Linked DNA regions of Homo sapiens: all the other regions are linked to region 3. The links come from fine-mapping of genetic effects on gene expression. A gene starts in region 3. Each other region holds a variant in brackets. All regions are shown on one strand. Distances are between the middles of the regions. Region 1 overlaps GARS1 (glycyl-tRNA synthetase 1). Region 2 overlaps LOC105375220 (a long non-coding RNA gene). Region 3 holds the start of CRHR2 (corticotropin releasing hormone receptor 2).

The links. PIP is the estimated chance that this variant, and not a neighbour inherited with it, causes the effect. A credible set is the group of variants that fine-mapping cannot tell apart.
Region 1: its variant is the best candidate, but not a certain one, in a credible set for the expression of CRHR2 in fibroblasts (GTEx, PIP 0.78).
Region 2: its variant is the best candidate, but not a certain one, in a credible set for the expression of CRHR2 in tibial nerve (GTEx, PIP 0.82).

Annotation. Positions count from the first base shown.
Region 1 is chr7:30,631,101-30,636,890 of GRCh38, reverse strand. It overlaps GARS1 (glycyl-tRNA synthetase 1), which reads right to left. Exons shown (of 17, transcript NM_002047.4): 15 at 5,350-5,443; 16 at 4,454-4,644; 17 at 2,858-3,156. The coding sequence ends at 3,031. Among named protein-coding and RNA genes, the nearest start is that of GARS1, 39 kb to the right of the region's middle. The variant G/A (reference allele first, on the strand shown) is at 3,162.
Region 2 is chr7:30,706,246-30,712,035 of GRCh38, reverse strand. The region is part of intron 1 of LOC105375220 (a long non-coding RNA gene); the gene reads right to left. Among named protein-coding and RNA genes, the nearest start is that of CRHR2, 27 kb to the right of the region's middle. RefSeq lists an enhancer at 4,097-4,597. The variant G/C (reference allele first, on the strand shown) is at 2,908.
Region 3 is chr7:30,679,501-30,685,290 of GRCh38, reverse strand. It overlaps CRHR2 (corticotropin releasing hormone receptor 2), which reads left to right and starts at 2,835. Exons shown (of 12, transcript NM_001883.5): 1 at 2,835-3,113; 2 at 3,251-3,376. The coding sequence starts at 3,011. LOC124901608 (a long non-coding RNA gene) reads right to left here and starts at 2,672. Exons shown (of 2, transcript XR_007060275.1): 1 at 2,218-2,672. RefSeq lists a silencer at 2,764-2,813.

The DNA.
Region 1 (5,790 bases), 48 kb after region 3:
ATGGCACACGTATACGTATGTAACTAACCTGCACAATGTGCACATGTACCCTAAAACTTAAAGTATAATTAAAAAAAAAAAAGAAAATTTTCAGGAAAAAAGCATGAGAGTTATTATAAAGGTGTTAATTTCCTCATATACATAATAAATGAATACCGTGATTCTATATATTTTCCCTGATGGCTAATCTAAAAAGATTAAATTCTTAAATAATAGTTAAAAGCAGAAAAATAGAAAATATCTAATTGTATGTTTTTGTATTAGATGCTGATCATACTTTAATTCTATAATTCAAAATAGTATCAACCCATTTCTAAAATGACACTCTGTAAAATAATTTAAAGTGTTAATTATATGAGAAAATTACACATACATGTCTTCTTTAAACTTTTTTAAGTGGCTTTGTTTTCATTAGACTGTATTATTTGTAATCAGTATAGTTTAGTAAAGTTATTTTGAAAATAAAGATAATTTTTGTTATCCTTTGTTTTTCTCACGTTTAATGTCAGTCTTCCAAAGAAAAATAAAATTTGGCACTAAGCACAAGAAAAAAAAAAAAAAGAATCTGACCTTCCCCCATCATTTTTGGGAGAAGTAATAAACAGGAGTAACTTCTCCAAGATACAATGCTATTTATCTCACTCTTGTTAAGCCCACAGTCCGGTACGTACAGGTATATAAATAATTTAAAAGGCCTCAAAGAGCATTAAGCCAGAAAGACCCATGCTTTAAATACACATTGGGCTTGAACAGAAGAGGTGTGTGCGTATGCATACGCAAACTCGTGGGTAAAGAGTCTCTTCATTTAGAAAACAGCACTTCAACTGCTTGTTCTTAAAATCAAGCAAACATGGTACAGACAGAACCAGAGAGCTCTGCTGCCGGCCCGTCTCCCTCACTCAGGTATCACTTTAGAGACCTGCTTTAGAGCAGGTGATCCAGGAGAAATCACGCATTGCTACCCAGGGGAAGGAACAAAAGAGGGCTTGCAGATTCAATATCCAGCCTCTACCTCATGACAAATGTATTTGCCAATGAAAAGGGAAGTGAGGCTTGGTTCCAATCCCTTTCTGATCCAAAGTATTAGGCTGGTGCAAAAGTAATTATGGTTTTTGTCATTACTTTATTTATTTATTTTTTTGAGATGGAGTCTCGCTCTGTGCCCAGACTGGAGTGCAGTGGCACAATCTCAGCTAACTGAAACCTCCGCCTCCCGGGTTCAAGTGATTCTCCTGCCTCAGCCTCCCATGTAGCTGGGAGTACAGGAACGTGCCACCACACCCGGCCGATTTTTGTATTTTTAGTAGACGGGGTTTCACTGTGTTGGCCAGGCTGGTCTCGAACTCCTGACCTCAAATGATCCGCCCGCCTTGGCCTCCCAAAGTGCTGGGATTACAGGCATGAGCCACCGCGCCCAGCCTGTCATTACTTTTAATGGCAAAAACCGCAACTACTTTGGCACCAACCTGATGATAGGTAACTCTCACTATGTATTTAATGTATCTTTCCCTATTAATGAGCTTAAACCAATGTCTGAGGCTGTGGTGACTGTTTGACTATGGAGGTACCTGCTGTAAAAGCAGCAAATAAATGCAGTTAGGGCAGCCCCCTGCCAATGTAAAGCTGCTAGAACATATGCCCAGTTAAAAGCTATATTATATGGAATTCGAAGTGAGAGAAATCCCTAGAAAATGAAAACTCAGTTTATTTAAAATCTGGCTCCTTCTAATTTAATAATGAATGCTCATAAAAGCAGAGACGGAAGAGAAATATGCTTCAGTATAAGGCTTTCCTCCCAAAGAGGTTTGTTCAAAAAAGAAGTCTGTTCAAAAATTCGAGACTCATCCAAAGACTATTTATGGAAGACCTACTATGTACAGCACTGCGGTAGGCACCACTGGAGATGAGATACAAATGAGGGAAATCCCTGGGAGATTCCTACTTTACATCTAAGAAATCACAACTTCAATTGTTCTTCATACTAGAAACAAAAGGGCACACTGGAGATCACCACTCCTCTATCCAATACTGCAGGGGAGGAAGTGGGCACACTAGATAAGGTCATAGCTCTGCAAATAAACAGCTGCTCAAATTCACACAACCTGGAATTTTTCCCTTACAAATAAGCACAGCGTTCTGAGTTTTCTATACAAAAACATAAAAGAAGTAAAGTACCTTAAAACCTGAGCCAAAAACTGCTAGGCTAGAATCAAGACACTGCGATGGTCAGGAATTGCTAAATCAGACGAGAGAGATGGGTTCCCCTAGCATCAAGAGCTTAATGATTTCCAGGCTACCAGTGGAGCTGAGTGCAAGCATGCCTTAAGATAGAAGGCAAATATGGCAAGGCCCTCCCCTCCTGGAGAATCTGCAAACAGTGGGGTTAGCAGCCCTAAAGCACCACTCCTGCCACCCCATCCTCACCTCAGGCTTTTCCAGAAGTCATTTCACCTGCTTGGAGACTGCTGTCACAGTACCTGCACACTGCGTCATTTTCTCAGAATAAGATAAAGAATAGAAAAGGTAAATCAATAGACAGAAAGTAGAGGAGTGGTTGCCTGGGCTGAGGTTAGAATGGGAGTGAGGTAAATGAGCATGAGACTTATTTTGGAGTGATGAAAATGTTCTAAAATTGGTTTGTGGTGGTGGTTGCACAACTCTGTAAATATACTAAACATCATTGAACTGTACACTTAAGACAGGCTATTTTTATGGTATGTAAATTATACCCCAATAAAGCTGTTAATTTTTTAAAAAGTGTTAACTGTGTTTAACATTAAGCCATGAGCATGTCTACCCAAACGTGGGAGAAACAGCCTTGCTGAAAATGTAAAAACACAAGCAAATAGATCACAAGTTTGTTCAGGATTCCTTCAACTTTAATTGTGGGGGTAAAATCAGGCAGCCACTGAAGATAAAATACGGTCCCTGGGAGTAATCACAATGCTGTTTTCTTTTGTAAAGTGGACATAAGAGTAGTTTTTTTTTTTTTTTATTAGCGCAAGTGGTCAAAAGTTGTCAAAATTGTCCTCATTCCTCGATTGTCTCTTTTTTACCAGTCTCTTGCCCTTCAAACAGAGGATACCTGGCCTCCACATCAGCCCATGTGATGTTGCCATTGGCTAGGTCTTGGACTATGCTGGGCAGCTCAGAGATCTAGA[G/A]ACAAGGAAAGAGAAGCCAAGTATCAACCAACTTGTTCAGATTTTTAAGAAGAAGATTCATCCTGAACTCAGGAAACCTTACACAGAGCCAAACAATGTCATGCCAGGCATGGGTTCATGCTCTTCTAGCCCAAAACGCCCACCAGTTCCCCCAGACAACTCAATTCTGCCACAAAGCCTTTCCTAACTTTTCTAAATCTCCATGTCCCTTGAAGTTACTTCATGTGTATTAAATTTAACTATTAGAACAAACAGGACTCAGTCAAGTAACTCGTGTGAGGGAATTACATAAGACTGGCAAACTGGAGAGCTCTGACCAAGGCTACTGTTCCTCAGCCAAAACCAAACACTGGCTGCCACACAGCAATGGTTCTCAAACTTGAGTGCACGTCAGAATCATCTGGAGGTCTTGCTAAAACTAAGAAAGTTCTGCCTGCCCCCTCTGCCTCTCCACCCCCAGTTTATGATGCAGTAGGTCTGGGGTGGAGGTTTTGCTTATCTCATACATTTCCAGGGGATACTGATGCTGCTGGTCTAGGGACCACACTTTTGAGAACCACACCCAGATGGGGACACAGCTCCAGAGTAGCCAGATGGTCTCTAAAAAGTCAAGCTAGAAATTCACGACTTCTGGATTAGACTATAAACTCCTTCAGAAAAAAAAGCAGTCTTTTGCTTCTGTTTTCCCTATTACTTCTGTATCAAGCTAAGCACAGAACAGGCACTTGATGTATGTGCTCAAAGGTGATAAATTAGGCAGGCAGATGTCAATTAAAGCAGCTACTCTTTCCTTTCCCTTACCACTCATCCTTCTCCTTCTGTGCTTCTACCATCTCCATTACTGCCTTCCTATTGACCAAAACTACTGAAACATGATTCACTGTTTTGAATATATGAACACGGAAAAGCTTATACATACACATGTATACGCGTCTGTAAAAATAAAACATTAAAATGTCTAACCCTCCAAAGCCTACCAATAAAACTATGGCAACAAATTCTTAGGATCATATTTCTCTTGCCCAATAAACAAACAAGTATAAAAGCAAACTGCTGGAGAATAAGCCTGGAGCAACACAAATGTTTATAAAATATTAGAGAAGTGCTAATGGATATTTTCATAATTAAACCGGGGGACTTGAGAATCTGGGCTCTGTCTGATACAAGCCGTTCATTAAAATTAAAAAGAAAAAAAAAGGAAAGGGAGCATAAACACATCAAAATCCAACACAAATCAGTAAGAAGCAGTACACATTTCTAAGGCTAAAAATGCCAAAGAGAAGGCCAGATACCTCTGCTCTTATCTGCCGCATTGAGTCACGGTCCCTCAGAGTTGCAGTGTGGGGGGTCTTGTTCACTGTGTCAAAGTCAATGGTGACACCAAAAGCCACGCCAATCTCATCAGTCCTGGCATAGCGCCTTCCGATTGACCCAGAGGAATCGTCTACTTTGTGAGATACTCCATGCCTGGTCAGGGCTTCCGCTATCCAAAATAAACAAAGTAAATTAAAAATAAAACAATGGAGTTAAGCCCAGTGTTATCTAACTACTGTCTTACAAGCTCAGGAGACTTATAAATGGGACCAAGACAAGAAAGCAACAAGTTGAGTTGCAAGAGAAAGAAATATCCCTAAAGTTTAATAAATCCCTTGCGGGAATCCAAATCTTCACTCATACCTCCATCTGATACAGCTATAGGGGGAACAAATATGGGACCAAGAGCCAAGGCCAGAAGGTGAGTCCTGACTCCACCACCTCTATTTTTATGGCTCTAAGCAGGTCAATGGACTCTCCCCATTTCCCAGCTCTGAAATAAGTGGATGTGCCAGATGACCACCAGGATTCCTTTCAGGGCTGTGGATTCTGTGGCTGTAGATCCATTATGGTTGCTACACTCCACTCAGGTTCCCTCGATGAACTTGGCACCAAGGTCAGTATGAGAAGTAAATAATTTTTAAATCTGACTCTTGGGTCCTACCTTGCCTCACTCAAATGCCAGAATAAAACATCTGAGCAAGCATATCCTCTCGCTTAGAAATAAGAGTACAGGCTAAAATCATGTACTCTTTATAAAATCATTTATATTCTTTATTCAGTCTATATTTTTATTGAAATAAATGATACATTTCCTAAAATTCAGTCTCCTTGATGGTGTTCCCATGGAGTTTACCCAATTGAATTTGCTTACATAATTCCTTGACAAATGGCATGAACTCCTGGTTTTGGCTCAGTGGGAGGACGGAACATTTGAATGGAGCAACTACAGCAGGGAAACTGAAGAACTGGATGATTTAAAAAGAAAAAAATCCAAATATGTTAATTTGTAAATATCTAAATGCTAATATCCCAAACCAAAAGAGGTTAATATTCAGCAAGTGTTCAAGCATAACGTCATTACCAAAATGCCAGAAAACATGACATGAAAAGCAGTATGGCAAAAGAGAAGCAGAACCAGCATCAGAAACACCTGGTTTCAGCTCCGAATTTAGGCCAAGTCATGAACTCTTTCTGAACCTTAGTTTCTCCACCTAAAAAGCAGGTCTCTACCACCTGCTCTGCTTGCTTCACAAGCCCGTTACTAAAAAAGTCAAATGATGTGAAAGCATTCTGAAAGCTACTGTATATAAAA
Region 2 (5,790 bases), 27 kb before region 3:
CTTTCTCTGGGGGAGTAATCTCTTGCCTCTCTATCTATATCTACAGCCTCAAATCTACATGGGCATCAAATCCTCTTCCCTGTATCTATGGGGTTTGTCTTTATAAGGGCCAGAGTTGGGGGATTTTCTGAAATATTTTACAAAACACTGGCCAGGTACAGTAGCTCAAACCTGTAATCCCAACACTTTGGGAGGCCGAGGTAGGTGGATCACTTGAGGCCAGGAGTTCAAGACCAGCCTGGCCAACATGGTAAAACCCCATCTCCACTAAAAATATAAAAATTAGTCAGGCATGGTGGTTCATGCCTCTAGTCCCAGATATTTGGGTGCCTGAAGCATGAGAATCACTTGAACCTGTGAGGCGGAGGTTGCAGTGAGCCAAGATCGCATCACTGCACTCCAGCCTGAGTGACGAGCAAGATTCTGTCTCAAAAAATAAAAAGTAAAAACACTGCAATGCAGAAAATCACTGGCAGAAGGCTTGCTTAGAGAGGTACTCTTTTGTTGTAGTTAGATTCCTAGTTGGGAAGTTAGCAGTTCTGGGTTCTGGTTTTAAATCTACCACTAACTAGCTAAGATACAAATCATATTTCTCAGGGTGTCATGCATCCTCCCTGAGAACTGGGTAGAAAAGCATCTCTGGTTCCTGCAATGTCATCACCATGGTTCTAATGATTAGAAACACATATTACCCATGGGATCAGTCATCAATGACCAGGAAGAAAATCATGGTGAGAACTTCTCAGAAAGAATCCCCTGGTTGGCTGGGTGTGGTGGCTCACGCCTGTAATCCCAGCACTTTGGGAGGCCGAGGTGGACGCATCACCAGAGGTCGGGAGTTCGAGACCAGCCTGACTAACATGGAGAAACCCTGTCTCTACTAAAAATACAAAATTAGCCAGGCATGGTGGCGCATGCCTGTAGTCCCACTCAGGAGGTTGAGGCAGGAAAATCATTTGAACCTGGGAGGCAGAGGTTGCAGTGAGCCAAGATTGCGCCATTGCACTCCAGCCTGGGCAATGAGAATGAAATTCCATCTCAAAAAATAATAATTAAAAAAAAAAAAGAATTCCCTGGTTAACTAGTCACATGGCTTAGAGGTTATTAAACTGATGGCTGCTGTCCCTCCCTAGCAGTGTATGCTGGTGACTCAGCGCCAAACGTGCCAACTTGAGCTGTGATTTCTTTTCCCAAAGGCAGTATGTTGATTCTCTGACCTTTGAATCTTTTATTTGGTCACAGCCATGGATAAAGAAATGAACCTGGAGAAGCAGCGTAGCCTCTTCCCTAGAGGGACTTAAGTCCCAGCTCTGACAGGGACCAACTGTAGAAGCCTGAGCAAGCCCTTCCCCTCTCTGGGCCTCACTTTGCACATCTAAAATGAGGGGAATTAAGCTAGATGTTCTCTAAAGTTACTTGCAAAATTCTCTATTTTTGTATACAGTATTAATTTGCCAACTCTTGCTAGATTTTCATCAACAGTGCAAATATCTGTAAAAGATCAAAGTCACTTCTGGTGCCAATCATCAGGAGCAGGGTGGCCAGGGTGACCTCTTCCATCCAAGCCATATTTTGCTTTCACTCTTCCACTTGAAGCCTGTCACAGTAGCAGCTAGTCTTTGACTGAGGGTGTACGATGGGCCAGGCGCTGATTTAACCACTGGGCCTAGATTCATACATGTAGTTCCCCATGATCCAAAGAGGTAGGTACCATGAAAGGTACTATTGTCAGCTCCACTTTACAAAGGGAATTGTGAGCCAGAGAACGGAAGTCACTCACCCAAGGTCACACAGCTAGAGCACAGCAGACAGAATTCTCACCAGGCAATCTGGCTTTAGTCAATTCCTATTGAGCTCCTATTATGTGCATATAATAAAAGACACTGCAAAGAATCAATATTTGGGGACAACTGTGATGGTATTTATGCCATGTTCAAAACTAATTTCCCCTTCTTCCTGAGAAGCTGGGGGAAATTCAGGACAACTTGAATTTCCTTTGTCAATATTCTATATACCTGCCAACGAGAACATTAGCAGATTGTGCAAGGAGGCATGGTTCTCCACACAAATACTTTCTATTATTGCTGAATCAATAGCTCTGGTGCTCAGTTTGAGAGAACTATATTTCTGAAATAAAGAGAAAGAAAATTTTACTCAGAAATTCCAATTCTGCCTTCACAAACAGCCTCCCGGTAAGAGCAGTGGAGGCGCGGGTAGTTGATGGCTAGATGGGCTCTGAAATTCAGCAGGAGGACCAGGGGCGGGGGATGGGTGAGTGATACTCTCATAGCAAGCCCTGGGAAAACAAGAGAGGTATTTCTAAGGACCTGCAGGCGCTGCGTGGCCCTTCCCACAGAAGGGCACCATAGCACAGTAGTTAAGAGCATGGACTCCTGACCCAGACTGCTGGGTCAACTCCTAGATCCACTGCTTATTATTAGAGCTGTGACCTTGGGCCCATGACCTCAGCTCTCTGTGCTTCAGTTTCTTCATCCCTAAAACACAGGTAACAATATGGTTTTATATAGGGATTATATACATTTATAGGGTATATCTGAAAGGATTAGAATTATGCCTACCAGGGACCAAGGCTATGTATGCATTAGCTGTTATTAATACAGTTTCAGGTAACTCACCAAGCCCTGTATTTGGAAATGCAGAAGTCAAGGGTTTAGATGGGTGTGGGATTTAACTTTCCCATTAAATATGCTTCCTTCTAAGAATAGCATTGTGATGGCCTTCCCAGAGCGTGAAGCAATGGGAATGAGTTTCTTTCCCTTTTTTCTACCACCCAATCGTTTCCATCCTTTGATTCCCCTGGGATCCTTTGCCACAGGTTCCAGCCCCTGTGACCTCCCATCCCTCTTGCACAATCTCGCAGCCTCCAGCTCACACCCAGCCTAGGCT[G/C]TTCCCTGACTGTGGGTAAGTCAGCCTCCCAAGAATGAGGCTGGATTTTTCCTCTGCTTCTCTTCCTCCCCCCATCTCATCTTCATGGATGGGCCTGGGTCTCCTCTTCCCATATTTCCTGATCAGAGCTGGCACACAGCTGGGCCCACAGAAGAAATCAGAGTCCAGGAGTTCGAGACCAGCCTGGGCAACATAGAGAGACCCCTTATCTACCAAAAAAAAAAAAAAAAAAACCTGGGCACAGTTGGTCCCAGCTACTTGGGAGGCTGAGGTGGGAGAATTGCTTGATCCTGGGAAGTGGAGGCTGCAGTGATCTATGATTATGCCACTGCACTTCAGCCTGGGAACAAGAGCAAGACCCTGTCTCAAAAAAAAATAAAAAAAAAAAAAGAAGAAGCTGGGACTCTGACTGGAGGGGGCCATGAGAACATGAGCTCCCTGGAACACATACATGCCCATGGAGGTCACTGAACCCCCTCAGGGAGGCAGGATAGCGTGCTCACAGCAACTTGAGTTAAATCTCAAAGGACAGCTGTCACCACATGGTAAGAGATATGGATGAGGGAGGCCAAGGAGAATGCAGCCCTCACACAGTAGGAACACGGCTTTCCTCCTTTCCCCAGACGGAAGGCAGGGCAAACAGTGGCTTCGGTGTTGTTCTGTTTCACTCCTTTCTTTGGGCTTCAATTAGTTAAACATCTCCCCTTGCTTCTGGCTTATTTCTAGCCTTCAGCATTATTGATAACTTCGGTGTATCTTGGGAAGGTGGGAGGGGTGAGCCAGGAGGTGCTAGTTGCAGCTATCATACTTCCACGTCCCCTACTTCGCATTTTTTCAGGGCTTTGTCTAATTCCAGGAATAACTGAGGGCTGTGGAGAAGAGATCAGAGTGGAAGAAAGTGGATCCCACCCTTCTCTACTGACAGCCTAGCTCAGACTACTCACCGGCAGGCTATGATGATGATCAGAGTGTCTGCCTGAGAGGCCATCAGCCCCAGCCCAGGGAGTAGCCGAGCAGAGACCAGGGAACCCCTGGCAGGGAGGCTGGATCCGTAAGAACGTAAACATGACCCAGGGGCAATGTAAGGCAGCTCAGCCATGGAGACGATTCCATTTCACAGATGAGAAACTTGAGGTCCAGACGATGAATCCCTTTTCTCCAAGGGCTCACAGCCAGTAAGTCTTACAGCCAGACCGGAATCCTCCCTCCCAGTTCAGGCTCCAGGCCAAGTGAACTAGGCAGAGGACAAACCTTGCAGGCCGCTGGCTTCACTCTCACACTACCCCACCCAGCCCCACCAGCCACCAGGAGAGCACTCTGAAGTCAATGTGGCATTCGGCTCTGGTTTCCTCTGGCTCTCTCCTTTGTCCTCCCATGGCCCAAGGGGAGGACAGCTGTTCTGGACACAGGTGACTCCATTACAAAAGGCCACCTCCTCACCTTGCCAGTCTGATGCCACTGGCCGGTGGTCTTGTCCCTGCATTCAGGTGGAAATGCCCCCAAGCTGCCCAGCCACTGGGCCTGACATTTGCCCAGTGAAGGGCTGAGTCCAGGATCTGCCAATCCCGTCGACCACTCACCTTTTATTGACCTGCTGTCTCAGGCTCTTGCCCTCTGGGGAGCCCCAAGCTCAAGGCCCCACAACATCACCCTGCCGTAGAGGCAGCGTGGCCCAGAACAAGAGGAAGAGACATGTGTCATTGATTTGTCTCACTGAGCAGGCAGAAAAAGGTTGGGGAGAGGGCCAGCTAAGTGGCTGGGGAAGAAGCCTTCCTGGGGGTGGCCTTCCTGAAAATGCCAGGTCCCAGGCCTCATGGGGCCTTGGTTTCTCCACCTGTGAGATGGAAGCATGAATCGAGTGACTGTCAAGGTCCCTTCTGGCTGCAGTGTTCTCTGGATAGCAGCATCTGGACCAGGACTCAGGCCACCATCACGTCCCTGCAGAGTCTGCTGCCTGATCTCCCTGCCCCTGGGCGTGTCCCAGCCAAGCCATCCTCCACCCTATTCTTCCCACGTTCCAGCCCTTGTCACTCCCATGGTGGAAACCTCCAAAGTCTGCCTTACCCAGCCCACATGCCCCAGGCCTGCGCTCTGCCCACGGCCCTGCCTCACCCTAGTAGTCCCCCTTTTATGGACTGAATGTTTGTGTACCACTCCCCCACCCCAAAGCCAAATGATGAAATCCTAAGCCCCATTGTGATGGTCTTAGGAAATGTGACCTCTGAGAGGTGACTAGTCAGGAGGGCAGACCCTTCATGATGGGATTCTTGTCCTCATATAAAGGGACAGGAGAGCTTGCTCTGTCTCCATCCTGTAAGGCTATGAGGAGAAGATGGCCATCTGGAGGCCAGGAAGTAGTTCCACACCAGACACCACCTGCCAGCACCTTGATCTTGCACTTCCCAGCCTCCAGAACTGTGAGAAATAAAGTCCTATTTTTTATAAGCCGCTGAGTCTATGGTATTGTTCCGCAGCCCAAACTGGCTAAGACATCCCCTCAGGCACCCATCTATGACAGATGCCACCCATACAAACCACATGCTGGTCCGTGGGCCTGCCTTGTTCTCGCTCATTTGCTGTTGACACCTCCAGCCTCACCCAGCTGAGGTCCCCTCATTCCTTAAGCTGCCTTCCCTGGCCCCACTGGCGGGGTGCACGGGTTGGTGATGCTTACTCCTCCCCCCATAGGCCTTGCCTGTTTACTTATTATCTCCCCCACCAAGCTGGGGCAACCACTGTGTCTTCTCTCCCTGCCTCCTGCACTTAATAGTTGCTCAATAAATAAAATTGTGTGAAGTTCAAATCAAACACTGTCTTCTGCCTTCCGGCCCAGTGTTCTTGTAGGGGTCCAGGAAAGTCAGGCATAGGTAATGGCATCCAGAA
Region 3 (5,790 bases):
GGCTCTGTGTGTGATTCTGTTGTGCCTACATGCCTGTTTGATGCCATGTATTAGGCTTTGCAAGTGTGTCTGAGCTGGCCTGGAACTGTCCACTGCTGCTGCAGCTGACATCAGAGGTGGGCCATGGGATGGGATGCAGGGCACCAGAGGCACCTGCCTTACTCTGCTGCTCATGGTACACAGGGGTCTTCCAAAGTACCTGTCACACTTCCCTGAACCTATTTGCCAACCTGTCCCCAACAGCTTGGGGACACACAAACTGTTCCAAATACTTATCCCCTAATTCCTGGCCTCCAGCTGGGATGGGGCTGGCCTGCAGCGCTGGGAACCCATCACTATCCCAAAGCCTCTAATCTACCTCTGCTTCTTTAGTTAGCAAAAATGCCCCTGTCTTTGTTTGTTTGTACTTGGATTTAGTAAAATTGAGGGAATTTTGGGGCTCTTCCCAATTTCTTCCTCATTTGCCTGTTTGCAGACACTAAAGTGAGCTGTAAAATCAATTTGTTCCCAAACTGCTACCTTTTCTAGTTTTCCCTCTGTCACATCTCGAATGACAACTGTGCCTATAATAATAAGATCCATGAAGAAATGGCCCCACATCCAGGGGACCTCGGGTCTGTGGGTCTGTGGGTATGTGCTCAGACCCCAACTGCTCATTCAGGATGCAGAACAGCCTTTGACTCTGCCACTGAAATGGTCACTTCCCAGAAGAATCTTTGGTATGTGAGCTCTCCCAGTTAAGAGCAATCCAGTTCACCCAGGCCAACCCTCTGTTCTGCAGAAATCTGCATGAGATGAGAAGTCCCTGGCCTCTGGTCATTGGGAGCACACCACCTCTTGACATAGCTGCATCTATAGGTGCTTTAGGCACCACCTAGGTGGTGGCTGCAGTAATGAACAAGGATAATAACTTAAGCTTGGCTTAGGATTTCTCCCTTCCTCTGTGCTGCACCGTGCTGTGTGAAGGGCTATCCCTTGTATATGAGGGACACTATTGCCCTGTGAATACATGGGCTGACCTGGCCAGCCACCCTCTGGCCTGTGTGGGACCCTGGGTAACAGGGCTCAGTCTAGGAGCGGAGGGTAGGACTCTGCCTAGGTCCTCCCCTGCTCCTGGCACTGGATAATATGAAGACCAAGGAACCTCTACCTCTGCAGCTGCCCAGAGCTGAGCCTGGGCTCTCACTGTCCATTCAGGAGGCAGAGGGTAGACCTGGCTGGCTGCTCAGCATCTTGTTCCTGCCAGTCAGCAGGCCCTGGAGAGATTCCAGGGCTCAGCCCTGGTCTTAGTGTGGTCTCACTCGCTCTGCCTGGGCAGTGACAGCACCATTAATATGGAGGCTGGTGAGAGCGGAGCACACAAAAGCAGCCTGCCTGCTGCTTTGCCTCTCTCTGCCCAGGGCATGGTGCTAGTTCATGGTGGTTTCAGCCTTTCCTAGCAGCTTAGGTTTATGTGGAGGATGGCAGGGGAACAGGACTGGTTTCTGAGACTAGGTTCCAGCTCTCCTTGCCCTCTAAAGATAGAAACAAACAACACACAACACACATGTATGTCTTCCCCAGACTCTCCGTCTCATAACTCAGAACCAGAGAGTCTCAGAGCTGAGAGGGGCCTCGGGGAAGATTTCACTGATGGAGAAAGCTCCAGAAGAGAGGGCAAGCATCCTGCCTGGGGTACCATGGCAGGGAGAGCAGAGTCAGAGGCTGGACCAAAATGCAGCCTGAGTGGAAGCATGCCTTACCCCAGGCCCTGCTTCCCGAGCCCAATGCCCCACTCAGCTGGCAGACACAGCAGGCCCGCCCTGGGCACTCTGAGGGTGCAGCCACAGCAGATCACCAAGGAGGCATTCTGGGCCAGGGTGGGGTGGGGGGCCTGGGCAAGTTCTCTGGGGAGGTTTCCAGCTCCTCCACACCTGCTGTGGGGCCTGATTCTCCCCGCCCCTGCCCCGCTACTGGTGTGGAAACCAGGGTCAGGTGAAGCCCTGCCCAAGCCTTGAGGAAGAGAGACACATTCTCACTTCTTCCTTTATTCTTTCTGGTGCCCAAGGCACTAACAACTGGGTGTATAAAGCCTTCCAGATAATTTCAGCCAATTTCTCCCCTAGACTTACTCCATCTGATTAAATGGCCACCCAGTCACTCAAGCAGGAGACCTGATGTTATCCCTGCCTCTGGGCTCCTACTTAAAACCAGCCACCCACTCCAGTTCCTCCTCACCAGGTCTGGCTGCCCCTCCGAAATCTCTCTCCATTCCAGCTTCCACGGTCTGATCCAAGGACTTCAACCCACTCAGGCCACTTGATCTCATTAGACTCATGGGTGTCTCCCTGCTTCCCTCCAGGCCTCCTCGATACATTTCCTTCCCAGAGGCTATGGAGGCTTTTGGAGGATGCAGATCTGCCCATGGGCTCTCCGTCTCTGCCTCCCTCCAGTGTCCTCGCTCAGGGAGGGGAAGCTCAGGCGGAAAGCTGCCGAACTTTGGGTTGCGGCTGTCCCTCGATTAGCAGAGCTGCGGTGTTCTCCTCGGGCAGGCGGGCAGGTGGGCGCGCTTTGCTGCCCCCTGCAGCTCGGGGGCCTGCGATCCCCGCACAGAGCATTCCGTCACCCCAGGCCCACGCTCTCCAGCCCACCGCCCTCCTCTGGACGCCGCGAGTGGAAGAGAGCTGCGAACTGAGAAGCCGTACTTTGGGCAGGGTGGAGGGCCCGGGGGCTGGAGACTGAGCCCCTCCGAGAGGAGCCGCCCGGCCCCGCCCCCCGGCGCAGCCATTGGCCGCGGCGGAGCGGCTGTACCCGCAGCTCCGTGCACTCGGCGGCTCCTCTCCGGGAAGGTCCCCACTTGACAGCTCTGGGCGACCGGAGGTGGCGCCCAAAGGCTGCCCGGGAGATCGGGGCTGGGCTGGCGGGGGCCAGGACCCCGCGCCCTCTCGGCCGCTCACTCTCGCGTCCACTCCCTCGCAGTCACGCCGGGCGCGCACTCCCACTCCCTCTCCGCACGCGGCTGCGGGACGCGATGGACGCGGCACTGCTCCACAGCCTGCTGGAGGCCAACTGCAGCCTGGCGCTGGCTGAAGAGCTGCTCTTGGACGGCTGGGGGCCACCCCTGGACCCCGAGGGTAGGCGGGAGGCGAGCGGTCGGAGGCTGCGCGGGCTCCTTCTCTCGCGCGCTGGGTGCGCCCCTGACCCCGCGCTCCGAGAGCCCCGCGTCCCTGCGGGCCCCTCTGAGCCCTACTGCGCTCTCTCCCGCCGCCAGGTCCCTACTCCTACTGCAACACGACCTTGGACCAGATCGGAACGTGCTGGCCCCGCAGCGCTGCCGGAGCCCTCGTGGAGAGGCCGTGCCCCGAGTACTTCAACGGCGTCAAGTACAACACGACCCGTGAGTGCCCCCGGCCCTCGCTGCCTGCTCTACACCGGCCTCCTGAGAAGGCGGTTTAGGGAGTAAAGAGGATTCCGGACCCAGCGGTACAAAGCTGCTGACGGCCGCGGTACCGCGGACCGCGGGCGTTAAGGACCCCTTACAGTGTTGGGGGCGCGCCTTCTGCTTCTACCCCCAATACAGCGTCTAATCTCAGTAAGCCAGTGATTTGCCCACAATTCCCGTGCTCCATGCGGTGACAGCCCAAAAAGGGGAGAAGGAAATACTTCCTCCTCTTGGAGTGTAAACCTCCTTCCCTCATTGTAGGTTCCCGTTGCCTGAAGTTCCCCATTAGGGCTTCATTGTTTAGACAATGCTTCCCCTGCCCAGGAGGGGGACCTATCCCAGGAGGGCGGATATGCTAAGTCCCAAATCCCCCAGAGTGAGTGCAGTGACCAGACCCTACTACCAGAGGGGAGGAGGAGGGTAGGAGGCAGGAGGGCTGGGGCGAGCGCATGTTTCGTGGGGAGGACATGCAGGCGTAGGTTCTGCTAAGCCAGAGGGTGCGGGGTGTTGCATCTTCCCTAATCCGAGGTCCCAGGACTGACCTGCTGGGCTGAGTCAGGGGCTGTGGGCAGCATTATTCCTGCGCCCCCATAATGAGTGGTGTCTGAATCAGCACCCCAACACCATCTCTCAAGGAGAACAACCTGTGCCTGCCTTCCTCCTGGCAAATCATGGACTGGCTTGAGGCTCTGGGGAAAAGGGCAGTAGAGGTTGCTGGAGTTACACAGCCTCCAGGTGGGGTCGTTCAGTGTGGGTTCTGGGTGTGTGCGTGTGGGTAGGTGCCTGTCTGTGCCCTGTGGAACATGGGATGGGAGCCAGGTGTGTGGTCTGCGGGAGGCTGTGGGGGCAGCAATCACTGCCCCACCTAGAACCCCCCTGATATCTCCAGCCGGACCCCAGTTGTCAAGCACGCTGAGACCCTATCTGGATTGTTTGTCTGAAGCCTCTCATCCTGGAAACATCCTCAGAGTGTCTGTGTCTGATTGGTAGCCCAGCTCCACCTCCACCACACATACACACACACACACACACACACACACACACACACACAAGCTTTCAGAAGCTGAGGCTGAGGGCTTTGCCATGAGAGATGGTTAGAAGGCAAGAGAGATGTACCTGCACCTGATGCCAAGCCGCACTCTCCTGGCTGCACCAGCTGAGGGCTCTGGTGGGCCCAGGGAGCACATGCTTCCCATCCATGATTAAAACAGATCTCCCTAGAAGGAAGTAAGATCCCCAAGCTAGGAGGTGTGCAAGCAGAAGGAATGATTTCCCTGTGCCTTCCTAGTCCTGACCTTATAAAACTGTATTTTTAGGATTCCGTGAGCTGTGTGGGGTGGGGCAATGGAGATCAGCATGCCTGATTCAGACTGGGCCCGGAGATTAAGGGCCATCCAGGGTAAAGTGGGGTGATGGAGCATCTCAGCCCACAGCCTGTGAACCTCAGGGAGCTCTGCTTTCGTTCTTACCCCAGCCTGGGCTATGCCTTGTTCTCCCCGACCAGCCTGGGGGCCCCCCCTTCCCAGGGCCTGGGTCTCTTCTTCATAGCCAAGCTGAGTACAGTAATACTCAGTCAATTTGTGGAATACCCACTATGTGCCAGCCACTGCACAGGCACTGTATTGAGGCTCTCACTCACAATTGCAACAGACAAAAAGAACAGAATGATGAATGCCCTAATTAGGGGGGAAGCACAAGGTCTATGGGATTGGGGTGTGGGGGCGGGGTGACAAGGAAGACTTCCCAAAGGTGCTGCAGACAGCACATATCAGGCCATTCATATCAATTAAGTCTAATGAGAAGCTGATAAAAGGTTGGGGCACCACCCAGGCTGGTAAAAGTAGGGCCAATTAGCCCCTGGTATCTAATGAACAATTTTCTTCATTTAGACCAAAGTGCTGCCTGCACTGCAACTGCTGGAGAATGAGAGGAGCTTGTGGAGGGTGGGGAGCACTTACCACTAACCAGCACCTGGGGTGTGAGGTCAGCCTAGGTGGGAAGAGCAGAGGCTGCTAATGGCTGTGGAAATGCATGATTGATTTCCCTCCTCCCCTTTCTTCACATCAGTGCTGCTTCCTGCTTCTCTGTTTGCCTTTTCCTTGGGATCCTTCCTTTAAAAAGAATGACAGAGGGAGAAACCTCCACGAGAAGCCTAGGGGAAGAACAGGAGCGTTCAGGCTCCACTTCCTGCCCCAATTTTGTTATGCTATAGCCAAACCCGCATTGAAGCCTCATTCCTTAGAGAGCAGGAATCGCCCGGGTGGGGATAGCAGTTTAGATATTAGTCTCTGCGATTTTTCAACTCAGCTGAGCACAGAGAATCTGCCACAAAGCTAAGTGTTGATCATTTTCCAGGTGCCAGCTACCAC